Linked DNA regions of Homo sapiens. The protein of the gene in region 2 interacts with the protein of the main gene of each other region in a biochemical or structural test. Each region holds a gene or a part of one and is shown on either strand. Other genes may lie near its edges. The genes, in order: SORT1 and SORL1.

Region 1 (10,770 bases), on a different chromosome or scaffold from region 2:
AAGGAAGCAAATGAAGGAAAATTCATTTACTCAAACATCTACTGAGTGCCTACTATGTGAAAACTCTTTTTTTTGAGACAGAGTCTTGTTCTATCACCCAGGCTGGAGCGCAGTGGCACCATCTCGGCTCACTGCAACCTCTGCCTCCCGGGTTCAAGCGATTCTCCTGCCTCAGCCTCCTGAGTAGCTGGGACTACAGGTGCATGCCACCAGGTCTGGCTAATTTGTATTTTTAGTACAGACTGGGTTTCACCATATTGGCCAGGCTGTTCTCCAACTCCTGACCTCAAGTCATCCACTCACTTTGGTCTCCCAAAGTGCTAGGATTACACGCATGAGCCACTACACCCAGAGTGAAAACTTTTGTAAGCCTTTGGTAATGTATCAGTGAACTAAACAGACAAATATTGTGAAAAATACATTCCGGTAGGGCGAGACAAGCACTAGACATAGTAAATAAGTAAATTATGTAGTATGCTAGAAAATAAGTACTATGGAAAATACTTGCGCAGCTAAAGGTGGATTGATAGTGTGTGTGTGAGGAGGCGAGGGCAAACTGGAATTTAAAATAGGATAGTCAGGGAAGGTCTCATTCAAAAAGTAATACATGAGTACAGACATATCAGCCTTGCGGACATCTGGAGAAACAGAGGGAACTGTCGGTGCAAACTCTAATCTGTGCATGTGCATGTGTACCTGCTGTGTTAAGAACTGGCAGGTGGACAGTATGATGAGAGTAGGGCAGATGGAAAGAGAAGCGCTGGAGGTGAGTCAGGGAGGAAACCGGGAGCCATATCTCCAGGACTTTGTAGGCCACTGCCAGGACTTTACAAAATAAAAACAGCCCCTACCTCCTACCGAAAAATAAATATATAAATAAAATGACACTTTAAGAGTCTTTGTACTTGAGACTAATGTGTTTATTTGTATAACTGGGCCTAAGGAAAGGTGAGCTCTGTAGAGCCATTGAGTAGAACACAAGAAGAACCCTGGCTGGCTACTGCTATGCACCCTTACCAAGAAGAGCAGGAAGTGGGTCAAATTCAGGCTTATTCTCATAGGCCTACATCTCCCAATATAGAAGACTCACTTTATTACCTAAACAACATAGATTCAAAACATCTTTTTTTCTACTTGTTGTTGCTCTCCTCACTCCTAGTTCTATTTATCATAACTTATTTAAAATAGGGAGCCTGAATTTGCATGGGTTTGGTCTGTCCCTGCTGGACTGTCCTCCTGATCCCTCCTCCCCCGGCATCACCCAATGTCTCACCACCACCACCAGGCCAAACCCTCCTGTGACTCTGATACTTTTTTTTTTTTTGAGATGCAGTCTCACTCTGTTGCCCAGGCTGGAGTGCAGTGGCATGGTCTTGGCTCACTGCAAGCTCAGCCTCCCGGGTTCACGCCATTCTCCTGCCTCAGTCTCCTGAGTAGCTGGGACTACAGGTGTCCACCACCACGCCCAGCTAATTTTTTGTATTTTTAGTAGAGACGGGGTTTCGCCGTGTTAGCCAGGATGGTCTCGATCTCCTGACCTCATGATCCACCTGCCTCAGCCTCCCAAAGTGCTGGGATTACAGGTGTGAGCCACCGCGCCCAGCGACTCTGATACTTTGCATGTGTACTTCCTTCAGCTGAAAATGCCCTTCCCTCCCCATTCCTGCCTATCATACTTAAGGCTCAGTCTTAAATGTTTTTCAAGTGTGTTCACTGTATGGTTTTGAGTGCAAGGCTGTTCAGCCGTTTATTTGTAGGCTCATTTGGCAAGTATTACTGAACATCTACTATGTGCAAAAATTGTCATAAGCACCAGAGGAGCATCAGTGAACACAACTTTAAAAATCACTGCCATCCATAGGACTCAATTAGAAGCTTCCTCAACGAAGATATTCACATGGCCAACGAGCATATAAAAAGTTGTTCAACATCTTTAGTCATTAGAGAAATGCAAATCAAAGCTATAAACGAGATAGTATTTCACTCCCATTAGGAGTGCTGTTACAAAAATAGGAGAATATAATGTGTTTGCAATGAAGTAGAGAAATTGGAATCCTTTTGTATTGCATGTAAAATGGTACAACCATGTGGAAAACCCATTGGTATTTCCTCCAAAAGAGAAACATGGAATTATCATGTGATCCTGCTATTTCACTCCTACATATATCCCCAAAGGAACTGAAAGCATTGACTTAAACAGTTACATGTATAACAATGTTCATGGCAGCATTCAGTATTCATAAGAGCTGAAAATGGAAACAGCCTAAGTGTCCATCAATGGAGGAATAAAAAACAGGCTGGGCATGGTGGCTCACGCCTGGAATCCCAGCACTTTGGGAGGCCAAGGCAGGCAGATCACCTGAGGTCAGGAGCTCGAGACCAACCTGGCCAACATGGTGAAACCCCATCTCTACTAAAAATACAAAAATTAGCTGGGTGTGGTGGCACACACCTGTAAACCCAGCTACTCAGGAGGCTGAGGCAGGAGAATCCCTTGAACTTGGGAGACCAAGGTTGCAGTGAGCTGAGATCACGCCACCGCACTCCAGTCTGGGCAACAGAGCGATTCCATCTCAAAAAAAAAAAAAAAAAAGAAAGAAAAAGAAAAAAAAGGTGCTATATTCAAACAAAGGAATATATTCTAGTCTTAAAAAGCAATAAGTGAAATTCTAAAACATGCTGCAATGTGGCTGAACTTTGAAACAATATGCAAAATGAAAGAAGCCAGACATACAACAACCAATAGTGTATGATTCTGCTTACATGAGCTACCTAGAATAGGCAAATTCATTGAGACATAAAATAGAATGTTGGTTACCAGAGCTGGGTGACTGGGTGGGGAACGAGGAGTGCTTGTGCACCTGGTGCAATTTCTATTTGGGATGATGAAAAAGCTCTGGAAATAGGGGTGATGGTTGTGCAACATTGTGACTGTGCTTAATGCTACTGAATTGTACCCTATACAATGTTAAAAACTGCAAATTTTGTTAGACATATTGCCACAATAAAAAAAAAAAAGGAAACAAAAAAATGTACATGGGTAGGCTTGTTGGCTTGGCAAGCAACATTACTAGGGGACAGGTTCCCCGAAGCCTCAAATCCTACCACATGCAGCTGAAGGCACAGTACACCACTGCGATGCCGAGACTCACCTTCGGAGAGCACGCTTGTTATGTAGACGCCGCGGAGGGAGGTCACGTTGGTAAAGTCCGTCTCTCCGCCTGTGGTAGTGTAGAGATGTCGGTCCAAAGACTTGGAATAGACAATGCCTCGATCATCTGAGGTAAAGATTGTGCCAAACCCAGTGTCTGAAATAGGCAAACAAACAAAAATACTAAGTCTTGGGTGGAACCAAAGAGAAAAACAATAGTCTAACCACACACGATTACCTGCCTGACCAAACACAGTAGCCAATTGTGTCTCTTCATGATGAAGACTCAGACCTGAGAATTAATCAAGGTTTGATACTCAAGATCTTTATGCCCATCTTTAATTCTAGTACCCAGCTTAGTGCCTGGAATATGGCAGATGCTGAGTTTGTTGAATAAATTAATCAGATGCTACAGAAAAACTCTTCCCAGATATATTTTGGTGGGAGAGGCCCTATGTTTAGTTTACATATTTTTAAATCTTTACACTCTAGAACAATGCTTCTCAAACTATCTGTAGTGAAGGATCAATTTGTAAGATTTCCAATATGTCACAAACTGATGCTATTGTAAAACATAATAAAAACTAATCATTAGAAAATGAAAAGGTAAACAAAATATATGCCCCTAAGTTTTTTTTTTTTGAGATGGAGTCTCGCTCTGTTGCCCAGGCTGGAGTGCAGTGGCACGATCTCAGCTCACTGCAAGCTCCACCTCCCGGGTTCATGCCATTCTCCTGCCTCAGCCTCCTGAGTAGCTGGGACTATAGGTGCTCGCCACCACGGCCAGCTAATTTTTTGTATTTTTTGTAGTAGAGATGGGGTTTCACTGTGTTAGCCATGACGGTCTCGATCTCCTGACCTCGTGATCTGCCCGCCTCAGCCTCCCAAAGTGCCAGGATTACAGGTGTGAGCCACTGCGCCCAGCCATAAACCCCTAATTTTTTGTCATTAGATCCAACAGACATAAAATTGCTTTGTCAAAAGGCTAGAAGAGTTTCCAAACTCTTGCTCTCAATTTCTGTACTTATCTGGTAACAGATAGTTTGCAAATCAGTACCAGTCTGCTGACCATTCTTTGAGCAGCTCTGCTCTAGAACACCTGAACATACACACAAGCTACCAAAACAAGTGGCATTTTTAACAGGGGCTACAGATGATCTCTAGGACAGAAAAATCAGTAGGGCACTAATAAATTTCTAGGGGTAAGAGGAAAACTCGACATGTAAAAATAAAAGCTGCTCAAAGCTTACATCTCTATGCTTTTAAGGGTAAGCCACTAAAAAGCTCTTACCTCCAGGTTCATCTACATGCATGAATACCATGTCATCATTTGCTGCCAGAATAGAATAGAACTGTTCCTGTCCCACGGAGGGGAGCTGGGCCATGCTCCATGTGTCCCCTTGATCTGTTGAAACGTGGATCCTTCTTGTTGTATCCTAGAACAGATGTCAATATTTATCTTTCTAATTTTCTGCCAAGATGCCATGGGCAGGGACATGAACAAGAATGTTTTAAATAACTACTATTATCCATTTCTCTACTGGGTACGATTGCTATGAATGAAAGGTCATAGTACCAATTACCAAAGCAATTTCTAGCCCCTAGCAAAGTTCTAGGTAAAGGAACAATCCATTCTATTCTAAGTAAGGCTATCTTGGCTTTCTCTTTGAATTCTTCATTCTGATGCGGCCCTGTAAGATAGTATAGTCTTGGTCTCTGATAGTCCACCTCCTTCAGTAGAGCTAAGGATTTGATGAGAACATTAGGTTGGCTTTATAGCCATTTGCATACACTCAGGTAATTCTTAAAATGATGACTACTGCATAAAAGTTTGGTCCCTTTCATACAGTGCTTGCATAATTTAAAGAATTATATACTTAAGGGTCTAGAAAATAGAGATGAAACCCATGTTTGGGAGATCACAAGGGAAGTCAAGATGTAACACGCCTTCTCTCTAAGGAAGTCTCTCAGAATAGCCAGGATGAAGGGAACAGGCATGGGCTGGAAAGAGGCCAAGGAGAGTCGGAAATTACTATAAGGAAACTGATTAGGGAGTATTTGGCTGACGAAAAGAGTCTGTTAAGAAAGCAATTAAAACTTAACTCTCTGATAAATAGCTTAACATCGCTACTAGATACAGTTAGCCTGAGCATGAGAATTAATGTCGGTGTTTCCTTAGATTAAATACTCTTTAAAGTTCAGTGATAAGTACATTTAACTTATTCAACTTATACCAACATGTCTCATTACTTTGAATCTTATTCTCATTACTGTAGGTAGAAACCAGAGTTCAAAAGTACATCGCAAAATTTTAATTCTGTAGACAGCATTATACCATATATGCAGTATAGCATAGGAAGCTACCTCTGGAATTTGAGTCTGATTTCCAGCAGGATTCCACTACTGGTTGACCCTAGGTAAGTTACTCAATTTCCTCACCTATAAAACTGAGGTAATACTATTAGCTCACAGGGTTATTGGGAGGATATTACAAAATGGCTTTGGAGAGTTATCTGTATTTACTGCCTACTTCTTCATCTCTAGTTCTCACTGAAGTCACTCCAATCGGCCTTTTAACTTCCAATGAAGTGCTTTTGTCAAGGTCACCAACAACCTCCACGTCGCCAACTCCAGTGGATAATTCTCAGAATGCACCTAACTCAATGGTCCTGATTTCCCTCTTCCTCCCGGATCCCTCCCTCTCAGTCTTCTTTGCTGGATTCTTCTCTTTCCAACCTTTCAGTTGTGGGTGCTTCAGGGCTTGCTCAGTCCTCCCACCTCTTTGCTACCTACTTACTCCTCCAGAAGGTATCATCTGGTCACATGGCTTCAAATACCATAGCAATTAGGGAGATTCATATACCCAAATGCTCACTTGACATCTCCATTCAGATATCTAATAGGTGTCTCATATGCAGAACTGAATTCTTTTTTTATTTTTTTTGAGACAGAGTCTCACTCTGTTTCCCAGGCTGGAGTGCAGTGGCATGATCTTGGCTCACTGCAACCTCCGTCTCCACAGTCCAGTTGATTCTTGTGCATCAGCCTCCCGAGTAGCTGGGATTACAGGCCTGCGCCACCACGCTTGGCTAATTTTTTGTATCTTTTAGTAGAGACAGGGTTTCGCCATGTTGGCCAGGCTGCTCTCAAACTCCTGACCTCAAGTGATTTGCTCGTCTTAGCCTCCTAAAGGGCTGGGATTAAGGCGTGAGCCACCATGCTCGGCCCAAAACAGAATTCTTGATTTTTCTCCCACAACCTGCTCCTCCTGCAGTCTTTGCCATCCTAGAAAATGGCACCACCATTCAGGCGCTCAGGATACAGACTCTTAAAGGTACCCTTGATTCCACTCATTCTCTCACAACCCACATCAAATCCATCAGCAAGTCCTATTAGTAATATGTTTAAAAATGTATCCACAGTCTCACCACCTGCCCCCTTACCCACTGCCAAGAGCCTGGCCAAGCTACCACCTCCCCAGCTTGGACTCCTGAGAGAGCTCCCGGCGCTCCCGCTGCTTCTGCGCGTGCCCCTGTCAGGCTGTTCTGCGCACACCTATTCTTCAAAAGAGAAGCCAAATCTCAGCATTCCCCTGCTCACAACCCTCTCACAGCTCCCAACACAAGAAGAGTAAGGCCCACATCCTAATTGTGATCTACAAAGGCCACATAAGGTCTGGCCAGGCCCCCTCTGGCCCCACTTTGGACTATTATTCTCTGTGCTCCCCCCATACTGCCCTTCTCCCCTTTGCTTGGATTGATCGGGCATGCTCCAGTCTGAGGGTCTCTGCACTGGCTGTGCCTCATCCTACTCTCCTCCCAGATGGCCACATGGTCAAGTTCTTGTTTCACTTAGGTCTCAGAGAGCCCATCCTAAACAGTCTGTCTAAAAGAGCACTGACTCCTGACACTTTGTTTTCTTACTGTTTTAGATTTCTTCGCGGCTTTAATTATTACCTGATACACACACACTCACATTTATATTTATTTATGAGACAGGGTCTTGTGCTGTTACCCAGGCTGGAATGCAGTGGCATGATCACAGCTCACTGCAGCCTCAACCTCCCCAGGCTCAGATGATCCTCCCACCTCAGCCTCCCAAGTAGCTGAGACTACAGGCACATGCCACCATGCCTGGCTAATTTTCTTATTTTTTGTAGAGACAGGGTTTTGTCATGTTGCCCAGGCTGGTCTTGAATTCCTGGGCTCAAGGGATCCACCCGCCTCAGCCTCCCAAAGTCCTGAGATTACAAGTGTGAGCCACTACCCCCAGCCTTCATATTTATTTTTTGAGTATTTATTTTCCCCCTTAAACATAAGTTCTGAGAGCAGGAAATTCATCTGTTTTGTTCACTGCCATATTCCTGGGACTTAGAATAGTACCTAGCATATAGTAGGCACTCAATTAATGTTATCTAATTGTATTTTTATTCTTGGATAATGAGCAAGAGATTGCTTTCTACAGATGTCCATTGTCTGAGTAATGCCCAAACACTGGATCAAAATATCCTGGCCGGGCGCGGTGGCTCACGCCTATAATCCCAGCACTTTGGGAGGCTGAGGCGGGGGGATCACCTGAGCTCAGGAGTTCAAGACCAGCCCGGCCAACATGGCAAAACCCCATCTCTACTAAAAATACAAAAATTATCCGGGTGTGGTGGTGCACACCTATAGTCCCACTTACTTGGGAGGTTGAGGCAGGTGAATTGCTTTAATCTGGGAGGCGGAGGGTGCAGTGAGCCGAGATTGCGTCACTGCACTCCAGCCTAGGCAACAGAGAGAGACTTTGTTTCAAAAAAAAAAAAAATCCCAAAAAAGATAACAGAATTCACATGGTGACAGAAGGCCAAAGTGCAGAGTAGCCTATCAGTCAATCAGCCTTTGCAAAAAGAATCACCCCTAACACTCACAGTGGTACTAAATATAACAAAAAGACAAGAAACTCTGTCAATGCCAAGTAATAAAGAGAATCTATACGAGAGATATTTGCAGAAATATCAGACCCCAAAGGGGAGAGGGCAATACCTACCTTATCAGCCATCACAGAGGCAAAAAGGAAACGTCCCCCAAGACCAAATGAGTAGATTTTCACACCAATAGTTTTGAAGCTTTTTCCCAAGTCTGAAGTTCTCCATAATTCCAGAGCCCCAAGGTCAGCTTCTTAAACAAGACAAAATATTAATTAAAATTTCACTTACTGGTGAGCCTAGTTCAAAGCAGTTGTTTTAGAATCAATCTTAATTTTATAGCTAAAGCATTTTAAATACTATGCATGTTAATCAAGTGACAACATAAAATGTGATACAGCGGCCAGGCGCAGTGGCTCATGCCTGTAATCCCAGCACTTTGGGAGGCTGAGGTGGGCGGATCACGAGGTCAGGAGATAGAGACCAAACTGGCTAACACCATGAAACCCCATCTGTACTAAAAATACAAAAAAATTTAGCCAGGCGTGGTGGTGGGCGCCTGTAGTCCCAGCTACTCGGGAGGCTGAGGCAGGAGAATGGCGTGAACCCGGGATGCAGAGTTTTCAGTGGGCAGAGATCGCGCCACTGTGCTCCAGCCTGTATGACAGAGCAAGACTCCGTCTCATAAAAAAAAAAAAAAAAAGTGATACAGCATTAGATATAGGCAATTCATATTTGTGTTTTATTTTATACATTTCAGATTTTATGCTCAATGGAAAGGTAAGAGATTACTTAATTCTAATACAGTGTTTCATAAAAACATCAAAGCCACAGCAGACGGGTGCGGTGGCTCACGCCTGTAATCCCAGCACTTTGGGAGGCCGAGCCGGGTGGATCACGAGGTCAGGAGTTCAAGACCACCCTGGCTAACACGGTGAAACCCCATCTCTACTAAAAATACAAAAAATTAGCCGGGCGTGGTGACAGGCGTCTGTAGTCCCAGCTACACAGGAGGCTGAGGCAGGAGAATGGTGTAAACCCAGGAGGCGGAGCTTGCAGTGAGCGGAGATGGCGCCACTGCACTCCAGCCTGGGCGACAGAGCAAGACTCCGTCTCAAAAAAAAAAAAAAAAAAAAGCCACAGCATGCTGCTTTACTTTCTTCATGGCACAGTTTGGAATTATCTTATCCTATTTTAAATTGTCTTGAGTTTTCTTTTCTTTTCTTTTAAGGGCTGGGGGTCTTGCCACATTGCCCAAGCTGTCCTTGAACTTCTGGGCTCAAGCAATCCTGCTGTCTCAGCCTCCCAAGTAGCTGGGACTGCAGGCATGCAACCATCATGCCCAGCTGGAGTTTTGGTTTTCCTGAATTTACGTTCCATGAGGGCAGGCCTTGGGTGTTTTCTTCTCTCCATCCTTAGAACAGTGTTTAGCATATGAGCAGGTGCTCAAATATCTGTTGAATGAGTAAATGAAAGATTTTGCTTTCTGTTTTGAAGTTGTGTCAGAGTTTGGGAAGCCAGCTGCTTCTGCAAACACAAACACAACCCTTGCTTTCCTGTAGAAATAACCATGCATTTCAATTTGCTATTGTCTGTAGCATAATATTTGCTTTACATAAATACATTGCTAAGATTAAATATTGCCTCTACGTATAGCCTATATTTTTACTTGATCTGGGTAGTGTAGTAATTTGGTTTTACTTTCAAGATTTTAATAACCACTAACAGCTTTCTTTAGCTATTACAATTTCAGGAGAATGGAGGGACCTTTTATGTTTCTACCTTGCACAACCCAGAAAATTCTACCATGAATGGACAACAGGACATTATTTTCTGGGACTAAAATATACTTACTGCAGGAGCCATTTGCATAGGTTGTAAAGAAGATGGTGTTGTCTGATCCCCTACAATGAGGCAAAAACAGGGAAAAGAAATGGTTTAAGACTGCTGAAGGACTGTGTTGACCTTACTCACAAACTTCCTAGCAGGTCTAACAAGCTTCATTCACAGGCACTGACAAGCACCACTTCTCAGGCGCTGAGCCCTGGTCCTTCACAGCTCTGCCTGTCAAGCTCCCCACTGCCCGGCCCATGTGTTGTCTACAGTCCACCACTTCTTTACGTGAACTCTTTCAGGCAGTCATGCTGGTCTACTCACCCTCTCAACATTTGCCTCTGACATTTTTGATCATCACAACTGAGGGGTGGGTGGCGGAGGTGTTATTGGCATCTACCGGGTAGAGGCCAGGGATGTTGCTACACATTTTATGATGCACAGGACGGTCCTCCACAATAAAGAATTCTTTGATCCAAAATGTCATTAGTGCTGAGGTTGAGAAACTCTGTTTTAGAGCACTGTACCATCTGCACAGCCACTTGGCATGCATTTGCCTGTTTTTTATTTTACTTGCATAGTATATGCCTTACCTTTCCTACTATATAAATTAGCTTCTTCAGGGCAGGTACTATACTTTGCTGTTTCCCTTCAGAATCTAGTTCAATGCTTTGTATGAGTTAAATAATTTAGTTCTTCCATCTCAAATGGACAACTAGGTCGGAGGTTGAATTATTTAAAATGTAACCTGGAAAGGGAGTTTGCAGGGAACTAGATTCAGACCCTCCTGGCACTTACTGGATTGCAACCAAAAAAAGGTGTTGGTTTTGAGCATGTTCTTTCAGAACTTTTGGTTGTAAATTCCTAGAAACTAGAGATC
Region 2 (10,770 bases):
TTCTCAGCTCCAGTGACTGAAATATTCAGGCCCTTGCTTGATGGAGGACATCCACCCCTACTGATCTGACTTGCTAGCTAGCAGAGTGGATTTTTAGCATTTCTCCAAGTGCTAGATCCAACACACACCGTGGATCTGTAATACAATGTCCAAAAAAGCAAGTGTCCTATCAGTGTCCAAAAAAAGCAAGCAGGTTAGAGCAAACAAGTTCAAGGCCAAGAGGTGCGGAGTGCTCATAGACAGTGCTGACAGCCAGACACCACTGCAAAAGCTTTGATTTGACCCAAACTGGGCTGCAGAGAAAGACAAAAACGTCTTTCTCCAGCCCTGTGTTTGGAGGCAGTAGGTCTCCTGGAAGTATCCTGCTCACAACCAAAGGACAGCAAGAGAAAATCCCAAAGGCAAACAGAAAGGAGCAGAGAGGCGACAACTGGCCATGGCCAAAGGGACAGTCACAGCCGCCCATGCACAGGTCCAGGTCTGTGTTCTACTCACCAACACAGATCTCCCCCAGCCTTTTTTTTTTTTTTTTTCGGTGACAGGGTCTCACTCTGTCACCCAGGATGGAGTGCAGCAGCACGACCTTGGCTAACTGCAGCCTCAACCTCCCGAGCTCAGGTGATGCTCCCACCTCCGCCTCCTGAGGAGCTGAGACTACAGGCATGTGCCACTATGCCCTGCTAATACATATCTCCCTTTTAAACCAGCCTGTCATCTATCCAGACCTCACTCTGGGCCCCAAAATGACTCTGGCTAACTTAAATGAAGATGACTCTTTGAGGCATGAAAGGGAAACTACACCTAAGGTGAGGATTGCAGACCTGTCTGACTGGCACCAAGACACCACGTTTGCATGTGCTGAGACCACAAACTCTCTCCTCCCGCACTGCTCCTCAGTCACAGGTGTGACTGCATGTCAGCTGTGCCCAAGTTCTTGGGATGAAGTGGACAGTCAAGACTGGGAAGTAAGTTGTGACCGGGTAGCCACTGGCTTCATCTGCACACAGTGTTTCAGAAGCTCCTGTGTGCAAATCAAACAAGCACATGCATACAAGCACTTGTAAAAATGAAGACCCACTCTTCTGGACTAAGTGGTAACATGGAGAAATGCTAAAAATCCACTTGGAGAAATACTAAAAATCCACTCTGCTAGCTAGCAAGTCAGATCAGTAGGGGTGGATGTCCTCCATTAAACAAAGGTCTGAAGATTTCAGTCACTGGAGCTGAGAAGCAAGATTCCTTCAACTCTCCTGATTCTAAAACAGGTGCCTCCTCTAAGAAAGAATGTGACTTCTCCATTTAGCGGCAGAATTGCAACAAAAGGCCAGCCCCTAAACTAGTGAGGATATTTTGGGAAAGCTAATTCATATCTGAGATTTAATTCCCTAATCTATAAACCATGGATCATAATACCAGCCTTCCCTACCTCACAGGTCAGTGGTGAAGACATAACAAATAATATCGTCTTACATTTGTAAGACACTTTATAGTTTTCCCAGGGTGTTCTCATGCTATCTTCACAATCCCAAGAGGATAACAATGATATCTATAACAGTATTATTTCCCCTGTCAATTTTCTCCTAGTATAGGGTCAGCCAAGAACCATAAAACAATATCAACATTCCAGTTAAGAACAGAAAACTTAGCAGTTTGTCAATAAAGGAGAATCAGCAAACCCAGGATGCCATTTAATCCTGCTGAGATAAAGAGGGAAATTCTTAAAGGGACTATTCTTCCTGGTAATCCTCTGATCTTTCTCCTCTAGAATCAATAGTATGGCTGGGAGATAAGCAAAATCAAAGAGCAGTCATGAAATGATAAAGGCTTTCCACTGAATAGTCTCAGACTCCAGGACTAGCAGGTCAAAGCCTCATAGCAGTTCTTGAAGCCTCACCCAGTAGATCTCTAAGACAGCTACTGTCTGCACCCACTGCAATTCTTCCCCTCCCTTTTCATCCCTTATTCTTTCAACAAATATGAATTGAGCACCTACAAAGTGCTAGACACTGGTAAAACTATCGGGGAATAAAAAAGACCATCTCTTTCTTCATGGGGTTTAGGGTTTCATGGTGGGAAAAGTTAATTAAAACAACACCTAACTACACAGTGCCATTCCAGCAGAGGTAGGTACGGTCAATGAGCAATAGGTCATCTGGGCAACCAGAGAACAAGCAAGAGGCCCTGTCAGGAAGCAACAACTATCTGAGCACCCAGCACAGAGTCTCTTCCTGCAAGCATGCCAAACAGGGATTAAGCACATGTTAGGACTCTCCCAGCTGCAACAGAAGCCGCGCCACCAATCAGTCAGGGGCCAAGGGCAGGAGGAGGGTGTAATTACCCACCAAGCACCAACACTCTAGGCAGGCAAAAGCATGCTGTCTTCCAGCTGTTTGTGTATCATTAGAAAAGAAATTAAGATGTCATTAGGAAGAAATTAAATAATGTGCATGTTGTCGTGACAACAAAGATGCAGGCTGCCAGCTCCTACTCTGAGCAGAGATTGGCCACACGCAGCCCCTTTCTTGAGATCAACTCTACAGAGACAAAAGAAGAGACTCTGGCTTACCAGTGTTCTTCCCCTTGTAGAAAATCTTCATGTCCATGAGCCCCGTGAGCTGGTTTGCCAGAATCTCCATCTGGGACCCACTGTATTTGGAAGCTCGGAATATGCTGAGCTGTGACCAGTCATCCCAGTAGATTTCATTCTAAAAAGAAAACCTTTGCCCATTAGTCCAGCTCTTTCGTTCTTTATTCTGGTTCTCTCTAAGGGTAAGAGTTCCCCCAGGCAGGAGACAACTAACATTTATTGGCTGAATGACTAGCCTGATCAAGATTCTACTTAAATGCAAAGGACAGCAATTTTATCCAAACCTCACCATATAACCCCACAGAAGAAACTGCCCAAAAGAAACTATCTGATAAGCATTCAAGTTTATGACACAAACCCAACCCCCTCAGTTTGAAATCTGTTTCCCAGAGTTGGGAAGAGCCATGTTGCTCTCCAGAGTCGAAAAAGAACTGCAAGGCACTATAGGTGGTGCAGAGCTCACCGGAAGTCATCAGAGAATAAAGTGAGCAAAGCGCACAAAAAATGAAGACACCACCCTGAAATGAGGCTACTGACACTGAGGGGCAAACTGGGAATGTTCATGGGAAGAGCCTTCACTTTTAACCTTTTGAAATGTGAACAGCAGGGGAGCCTGGACCCTTGGCGCCTCTGCCTGGCATCCCTCCATAGGCTGAAAATAAGTTATCTCAAATTTGGAAAAAAGGCAACCTTTAAGAAGTTAAACAGCTTCTCTGCAAAGCCCAGGGATGCAGGCTCCTGATCTCATATGCTCCTCACCCGCTCTAGCAGACTGTCCGGCAGCAACAAATGGACTCACCTTAAAGACAGCAATGGCATAGGGGTGCGGGAGGTTGTCCAGAATGACAGAGCGCTGCTGGCCACTGAACGTGATCCGCTCTATGCACTCCAGGTAGGCATCCGTCCAGTAAATCCACTGGTCGTCCACAGAGATGCCATTGGGCCACTTCACATCCTCAGACACCAGGTGATAGGCAGCAGAACCATCCATATTGCTCCGATAAATCCCAGGCTTCAGGTCTCCCCAGTCTGTCCAGAACATCACCCTAGCGAAAATGGGGACAGAACACATACCTCATCAATACTAGAGAAATGGGAGCTCAAATACTACTCCAGAAAAGGTCAGAAACTCCTTTCGAATGATCCGGCTGGTTATTTCAGCATTATTATAACAATATGTAATGACAACACCTGAAACTACTTAAATTCCTTCACCTGGAAATTCCTTTACTAGAATTTATCTATAGATAAAATCAAATTATGCAAAGATAATATACAAAGAAATGTATATGTATGTATATTAAACTAAATGTTAATCAGCAGAGGAAGTGACACATTATGGTACATATAATAGAATACTGTGAAACCTAAAAATCTATATATGCTCACACAGAACTATTTTCAATACATATTAAGTTTGTTTAAAAAGGTACAGAATAGTAACTACACTACAATCCTATTTGGCGTGCATGTGTGTGTATATGTGTGTGTTTTAAAGATAATACTTGTACATAAGTAAAAGCAATCATGAAAGATACACAAGACATTATTAACAATGATTACCACTAGGAAGTGTGAGGGTAAAGGGTTAAGAATGAAAAGGAAGAATGCAAATTTTTTTCATAAAGTGCTGTTCTCTCTAAATATTGTCAACCAAGTACATACATTACTCTTAGAATTTTCCTTGAAAAAAATTGTGCCAATTCTCTATCATAAATGCTACGAGAGAGGAAAAGCCAGAATGTCAAATCCAGAATTTCCCTCTTAATTATGTTTCCTTCAGTTAATGAGTTAATAAAAAGCACCTTTGCCTTCCCCAAGTGCACACTGATTGTACGTAAGAAAACCTACACATGCTGGGAAGGCAGGGGAAAGATGGAATGAATTAAATGTTTGTACCATGCATGAAACTCAAGAGAAAGTTCTCACAATATCCAAGCAGGCCTGTCTATGTCTACAGAAGCTCTCTTTTAACATCAACTTTTCTAGAGAAACAACCCACAGATGCAAGACATCTGGATGCCTAAAGAGACTCTGACACTGGCTAACAAAAAGCGAACGGAGTTACCTGACCACGATGACTAAGCTGTGGTCTCAAACTTCTCAGTTAATAGACCATTTCAACCACCATCATGAGAAACAGAGTTTTTGTCCCGCAGTCTGTGTTTCCATGAGAATCTATTAGTGTAGCATTGGACGCAAGACTGATTTCCTTTTGGGGCAACACTTACCCCTCTTGGGGCACGAGGACCAGAGCCCTGGGACGATCAAGCACAGAGGAATTGACGATTGTGAGTCGGAAGTCGCCATCTGGATTAGCTACCTGACAAAAACAGGGGGAAAAGAGGCTGAGATGGATCGGAGCTCCTTAAAGACCCCCATTGCCAAAGATGGCTACTCAGCTTCTGCTACAGACATGCCCCCTCCATGCCTGCCTATTTCCCTGACCTGACCCATCTGCGAAACCTGCCCCAACTTCTAGTCACAATGCGCTGTTCCTTCCTCTGACTCATGGGACAATTTTCAAGTGGTCTGAAAGAGGAGCTAGAACCATGTAAGCCCCAGTTTCCAGGGCATGATGATCTGGACAAAGCAGTATCAATAAGTAAATTACTCAAATAAGTAAATAAGCAAATGAGCATTTACTTATTTCACCATCCCGTGTCACTCCACGTTCCAAGGCAATCGATGACTCCACACTCCCATAAAACAAATTCTCAATGTCACAGCCTTGCAATGAAGAGTCCACAGGTGGGACTCATATTCTTGCTCCTTCCCGTCAGCCAGGCTGGTCATCTCTTGCTTCTCCAAGCCTGATGCGGACTCACTGCTGTCTGCTCTTGCCACATCCCATCCTGGGCCTACCTGCCCCACTGCTTAATCTAATCAAGGCATAACTCTCCTTCAAACCTCACTGCCAGGCCTGCCTACTTTCCTAACTCTTCTGACCCACCTGGACCAATAAGCATCAGTAGCTCTGCACCTTGGCTCATCTGACACCATTTTGCACCAACAGTATTTGAGTTGTGCAGTGGTCGCCCCACAGCCTGTGAAAAGGTGGGTGCTTGTGCATCACCTGCATTCTTTTAGCCCCTAGCCAAGTGCTGACCACACGCAATTAAAGAAAGGAGAGAAAGAGCAATAACATAACCACCGAGGCAGCATTCAGTAGATGCCAGTTCACTTCTATCAGCATCCCCAGGAGGTGGACAAAAGATCATCCTCTTCTCAGCCAGGGCTCAGCTAAGACATCAACCTCAAGTTGCCTGCTCTGTCTGCCTATTCTAATGTTGCCCCACTCTCCAAAAGCGCAATCACACTGCACTGCTTCAGAGTCTTTGCAGCATGTACCACCAACAGAACTGATTTATTATTTTGCTTCCTCCACTAAAATCTAAGCTCTACTGGAACAAGAACGTGTGTGTCCTGCCCACTGCTTTATCATCAGAACCTAAACCACATGTATCATGCAGAGAACCCCTGTCAAATGGTTGTGCGAATATATGAATCTCCATCTAACGCATGAAGCAACTGAAGTTTAGAAAGCATAAGCACCTTGCCCCATGTCGCTGAGCTAGTGGAGTCAAGCCTACATCTGGGTCTATCTCTCGAGTCTGTGTCTTTCGTCTTGCAACTCCTCTTAGCCCTCTGCATCTCCCTGCTTCTACTGCACTTCCCACTTCACCCACATGCCGTCTCTCCATGCAGAGTCAGTATAAAGAGGTGCTGAGGCAGTGAGCTGAGCACACTACATTCCCCCAGACAAAGATTTGGCAGTTTAGAGGTCACTCATCATCCTTGCCTTGGGTATATAAGGTGGGACAGGTTACTAGGTAGCTAAGTTGCAGAGAAATGGGGATTAATAACAGTGGCAATGATGATGATGATGATGATATTGTTGCTATCACTCTAATCGAATAAAATAATACTAGACGATTATTGTTATAGCATTATAATAATACCATGATATTAGGCTGATGCAAAAGTGATTGTAGTTTTTGCCATCATGTTTAATAAAAGTAGTAAAATAAAACAAAAATAATATATAAATAAAATAAGTAAGTACATATATAAATAAAATAAAAATATTACCATTTATTGTTATTAGCTAAGCTTCTGCTAGCCAAAAGATCAACTCACAGGTACTTACCCCCTTTTCTCTCCTCTCCAGAGGCTCAGCTGGTCCATTCTCTGGAAACTCGCAGTAAATTTCCTGAGTAATCTGACACACTGGCCCTTGCCTCTGTGTCAAATGTGGCTCAAAGCCCAGGTGCCCCGCCTGCTCCCTTAATTAAGAACAGCACGAAAATACACATACCTCAATCTTTTTGAAGCCTGCATCTACCCAGTAAAGCAGCTGGCTGAGGGGTTCAAAAGCCAAAGCTTCTACTGTCTCCAGGCCAGAATTGATGATCACCTCTTGCCCTGTGCTTCCATTCAAACAGAGGCGCTTAAGAGAGAAAAGTAATAATAAATGCTAGGAACTGTTCAAACGACCCCCTGCCAAGTCAGTCCCATGAAGGGTAACCCTTTATTCAACTGGCAGGACTGGCAAGGGATGAGATGTTTTACGTTAGTAAACTTTCCAGACACATGAAGCCAGGTTTTCATGAAAGCATTTCTAAAATATACTACATTTTTGTTTTTTAAAGCAGAATAAAGAGAATTTAATCATATATATTACTCTGCATTATCATTATGAACACTGGTTACTAAATTATGCTGTATGGCAATAATAAAGTCAGAGATTACTGAGATTGTATGAGTCTGTTTGCTTTTAAAATAAGTGAAACCAGACTGCTGTTACATTTCAGTTCTTGTGTCTGCTTTTATACTCTTTCTTCCCTGTGAGGCTCTTAGCCATCAAGTGCTATTGTTGGACAGCTCCATTCAGCATCACCGCCATCCCCCACCCCAAGCCCCTCAAATACCCAGGCACTGTGAAATTTCTGTTGGGTTGGAATCTAGATAAAAATTTGTTGGAATTGCTTTTCTAAAAGGATTAAGTAGACAATGAATAAAGATCAAAGAGCTCTCCTTTAAATGCATGGGTGTGAGCGTATGGCTATCCACCTGGCCTGTCCAGGGCTCTTTAATGCTTACTTCCTGGTTCTTACCTGTGTTCAGAACAGCTGAAGTGGATAATTATGTGAGCTATGGGTAAGTCAAGTGTTACTGTATCATGGCTTGGGAAGAAAGATGCTCAAGAGGCAGTTGGCACAATAGGGGGGCAACTAATCATCCTACATTACTAGTCCCAACACCTTCCCAGCAGGAAAAGCAAGACCTCACTTTCAAGCAGGTCTGTGGATTTAGGGCTTTCTTTATCCTTCCTATATGAACAGATGAAGACAGAGAAAGAAAAATACTAACACAGAAGACTGGAAACTTTCACCTGTCAGCCCTGAGATGAGTAACACTTACAAACTTCTAACTGCCCATTTCCATAGGCCATTCTGCATGCAGCTTATCAGGACAGGGCAGTCACGATGCACAGCTCCCACAGTCAGACCAAGCGCTGACTCACCTGGATGACGTCCAAGGCCAGGTCGGACCAATACAAACAGTTGTGCTCATAGTCAAAGTCCAGGGCCACTGCTGCCCGTAGCCCGGTGAGAGGCAACTGCTCGGTGGCTCCCGAGGCCAGGTCATAGCGGTAGATGGATTTCCTCACAGCATACAGAATGAACTCGTTCTCTTCTGCCAGACACACAAGACACGTGGGAGGTTGGACCCAGGGGATGCTGAAGAGGTCCTAGCACATCTGACCTATTTGTTTCTCATACACAAACCTCAAATTCATTGGCATGTGGTGTGGACCAAGTGAAGAGCACAGAAATCAAGACTCAGGAGGTGTGTAATGGAATCACATTTCTGCCTCAGGCAAGTTACTTAAACTCCAGTGAATCTGTTTCTTCATCTGCAAGTGTTTTACTTGTTATGTTTTTCTTTATTCTAAATCTCCCAATATGCATGCTTCAACAACCATACTTCTGGGCTAAGCCTGCCAGTCTTCAAGTCACACTTGCCAACCTAATTACACCAATCGCCCTGTTCTCCCTCCTCACGTGACTGTATCACCACAGCATCATCATCTTGTTGACGAGAGACCATTAGTCACTGAAGCTTTGTAACTAAGCTCTCTAATCAATTTGCTCACTTATTCATATTGTTCACAACACCATATGGCAATTCTATGAACCTCTTAGATCTCCAAAATAATACTAATAATGCATTTGTTCTTGGCTATTTACAAAATGTTCCACAACATAATCACCACAAAAATTCTGTTTCTACTCAACAAATATAAATTGTGTACATATTGTGTATAATGTGCTTACTACGTATCGGGTATTGTTTAAGACCCACAACAACTGCCTGATGGTAGAACTCTTGTTAACCAAATTTTACAAATGAGAAAACTGAGACCAGAGAGGTTAAGTAACTCACCCAAGGTCACACAACTAGCAAGTGGCAGAACCAAGATTGGAACCCAGGCACTCTGGATCCAGAGTCTATGCTTTAACCACTACACTGTGCTGCCTGTTATGATACAGACGCTACCGTGGATGATTTTTAAGATGTAGAAATGAAGGTCCTGAGTGCTGAAGATACTTACCTAATGTCAGACAACTGGAAATAGGAAGACCCAGTACACTGTCTTGTCCACTTAGGGAACGGCTTGGGAAACATCCAGATTCTTCCCCAGGAGTGGACACAAGCAGCACACCAGCATCTGTGTCTAAAGTGTGCATCTTGACAGTGTGTTGCATATGGGACCAAGATGCAAATCGGAATTCTTTTGCTGCATGCCTGGGTTAGCCATTCCTGCCCACTTCCTGATTCCATACACTCAGTGACTTAACATGTACCACTCACCTTCTTTATAAAAGCTGTAATATAGATAATGCATCAAAAAATAAATCTACCTACAATTTTTAATAAGGTAAGTTTTCCTTCTTTTCCTTTGGTTCCAGGTCACTTTAGAAGTATCTATGTTACCATCACATGGTAACCTACCTCCCCTTTTGGTTGTCAAGGAAACCTTCCCGCTGTCATTCCCAGGGAGGGGGCCAGCTAAGGTATAGGGACATGAAAGCTACATTTGCAGCAGCAAGGCTTTTGCCCCACATCTCTCTCCAGCATCTATAAACCTCATTCTGTCACTCTGGGCTTTTTTTTCCTCTAAGAAACTAATACCCATAAAGTAGAACCTGAATCCAGAAATACGTGTTTTAGGATTATGTTCAGAGCAGCATGCGGCATTCCAGCGCGCAATGCTTAACCTGGAAAAGGAATGGAATTCTTGGCTGGTCCTGGCCAAGGAATGTGTGTTTTCATAGTAATTGTAAAGGAAGAAAAATTCTTGCATTTAAAAAATCCTTCCAGATGCCCAGATTACCTCATCTTTGCAAAGATATTACGGCCCCCATTAGTCCTGTGAAAGCATCTTTTTCTTTCCTGGTATATCCCTGCCTCCTATTCCATGCCTTTTTTTTTCTCTCTTTTACATAGGAGGTGGCCCACAATGGAATGAGATTTCTCCACTTCGTTCCCTGTTCTATCTTCCAGTAGAAGAGAAAATAGCTTTCCTGCCAGTTTAGATGGCTTTAAACAAACTGTTTTGTCCCTTGCTGAATTATCTTCAGAAATATTTATTACAAAAGTAGGCACTCCAGCCCCTCAAGAGCAATCACTCAAACCCTACTAACCCACGCCCTCATCAATAACAGCTCTTGTGAGGGAAATATTTGAATATTATCTGCTCATTTGTTGGAATTTGCTGAAGTGGTGGTTCTTTTCAAGCCTCCATAGTGAGGTATGTTAATTACTCTGGTAATGATGAAAGATTAAATTAAGGGACTAACGAACTTAGCATGAAAAACACCAGGGCAAGCTGGCGGCAGTGAGCAAAAGAGAGGGCTGCCCTGCCCTGCCTGTGGAGACCACACACTTCTTTCATGATTCATTCGGTGCTTATGGCTGTCCACGTAAGACACCACCACCCACCACAGACGGAAGTTAACTCCAGCCATTTACCTTCACCAAGAGGTAATGGGCAGGAAAGAGGGCACAGAGGGAATAAAGAAGCTTTAAATGAATAAGAACTGGAAACAGAGTGAAGAAAAGCAACTAAGAGATTATTTTTCAAAGTATCATAATTTCATGTCTCTGTGGTAAAG

What was found.
Region 1: the proteins of SORL1 (region 2) and SORT1 form a complex in vitro, tested with the Homo sapiens proteins (one study listed by BioGRID).

Annotation. Positions count from the first base shown.
Region 1 is NC_000001.11:109,337,572-109,348,341, forward strand, and holds part of SORT1 (sortilin isoform 1 preproprotein), read right to left. Parts: intron 9,962-10,770; coding exon 9,912-9,961; intron 8,311-9,911; coding exon 8,180-8,310; intron 4,588-8,179; coding exon 4,443-4,587; intron 3,309-4,442; coding exon 3,153-3,308; intron 1-3,152.
Region 2 is NC_000011.10:121,551,454-121,562,223, reverse strand, and holds part of SORL1 (sortilin-related receptor preproprotein), read right to left. Parts: intron 8,288-10,770; coding exon 8,115-8,287; intron 7,038-8,114; coding exon 6,906-7,037; intron 4,911-6,905; coding exon 4,819-4,910; intron 3,634-4,818; coding exon 3,387-3,633; intron 2,706-3,386; coding exon 2,567-2,705; intron 1-2,566. UniProt on the Homo sapiens protein: Sorting receptor that directs several proteins to their correct location within the cell. Along with AP-1 complex, involved Golgi apparatus - endosome sorting.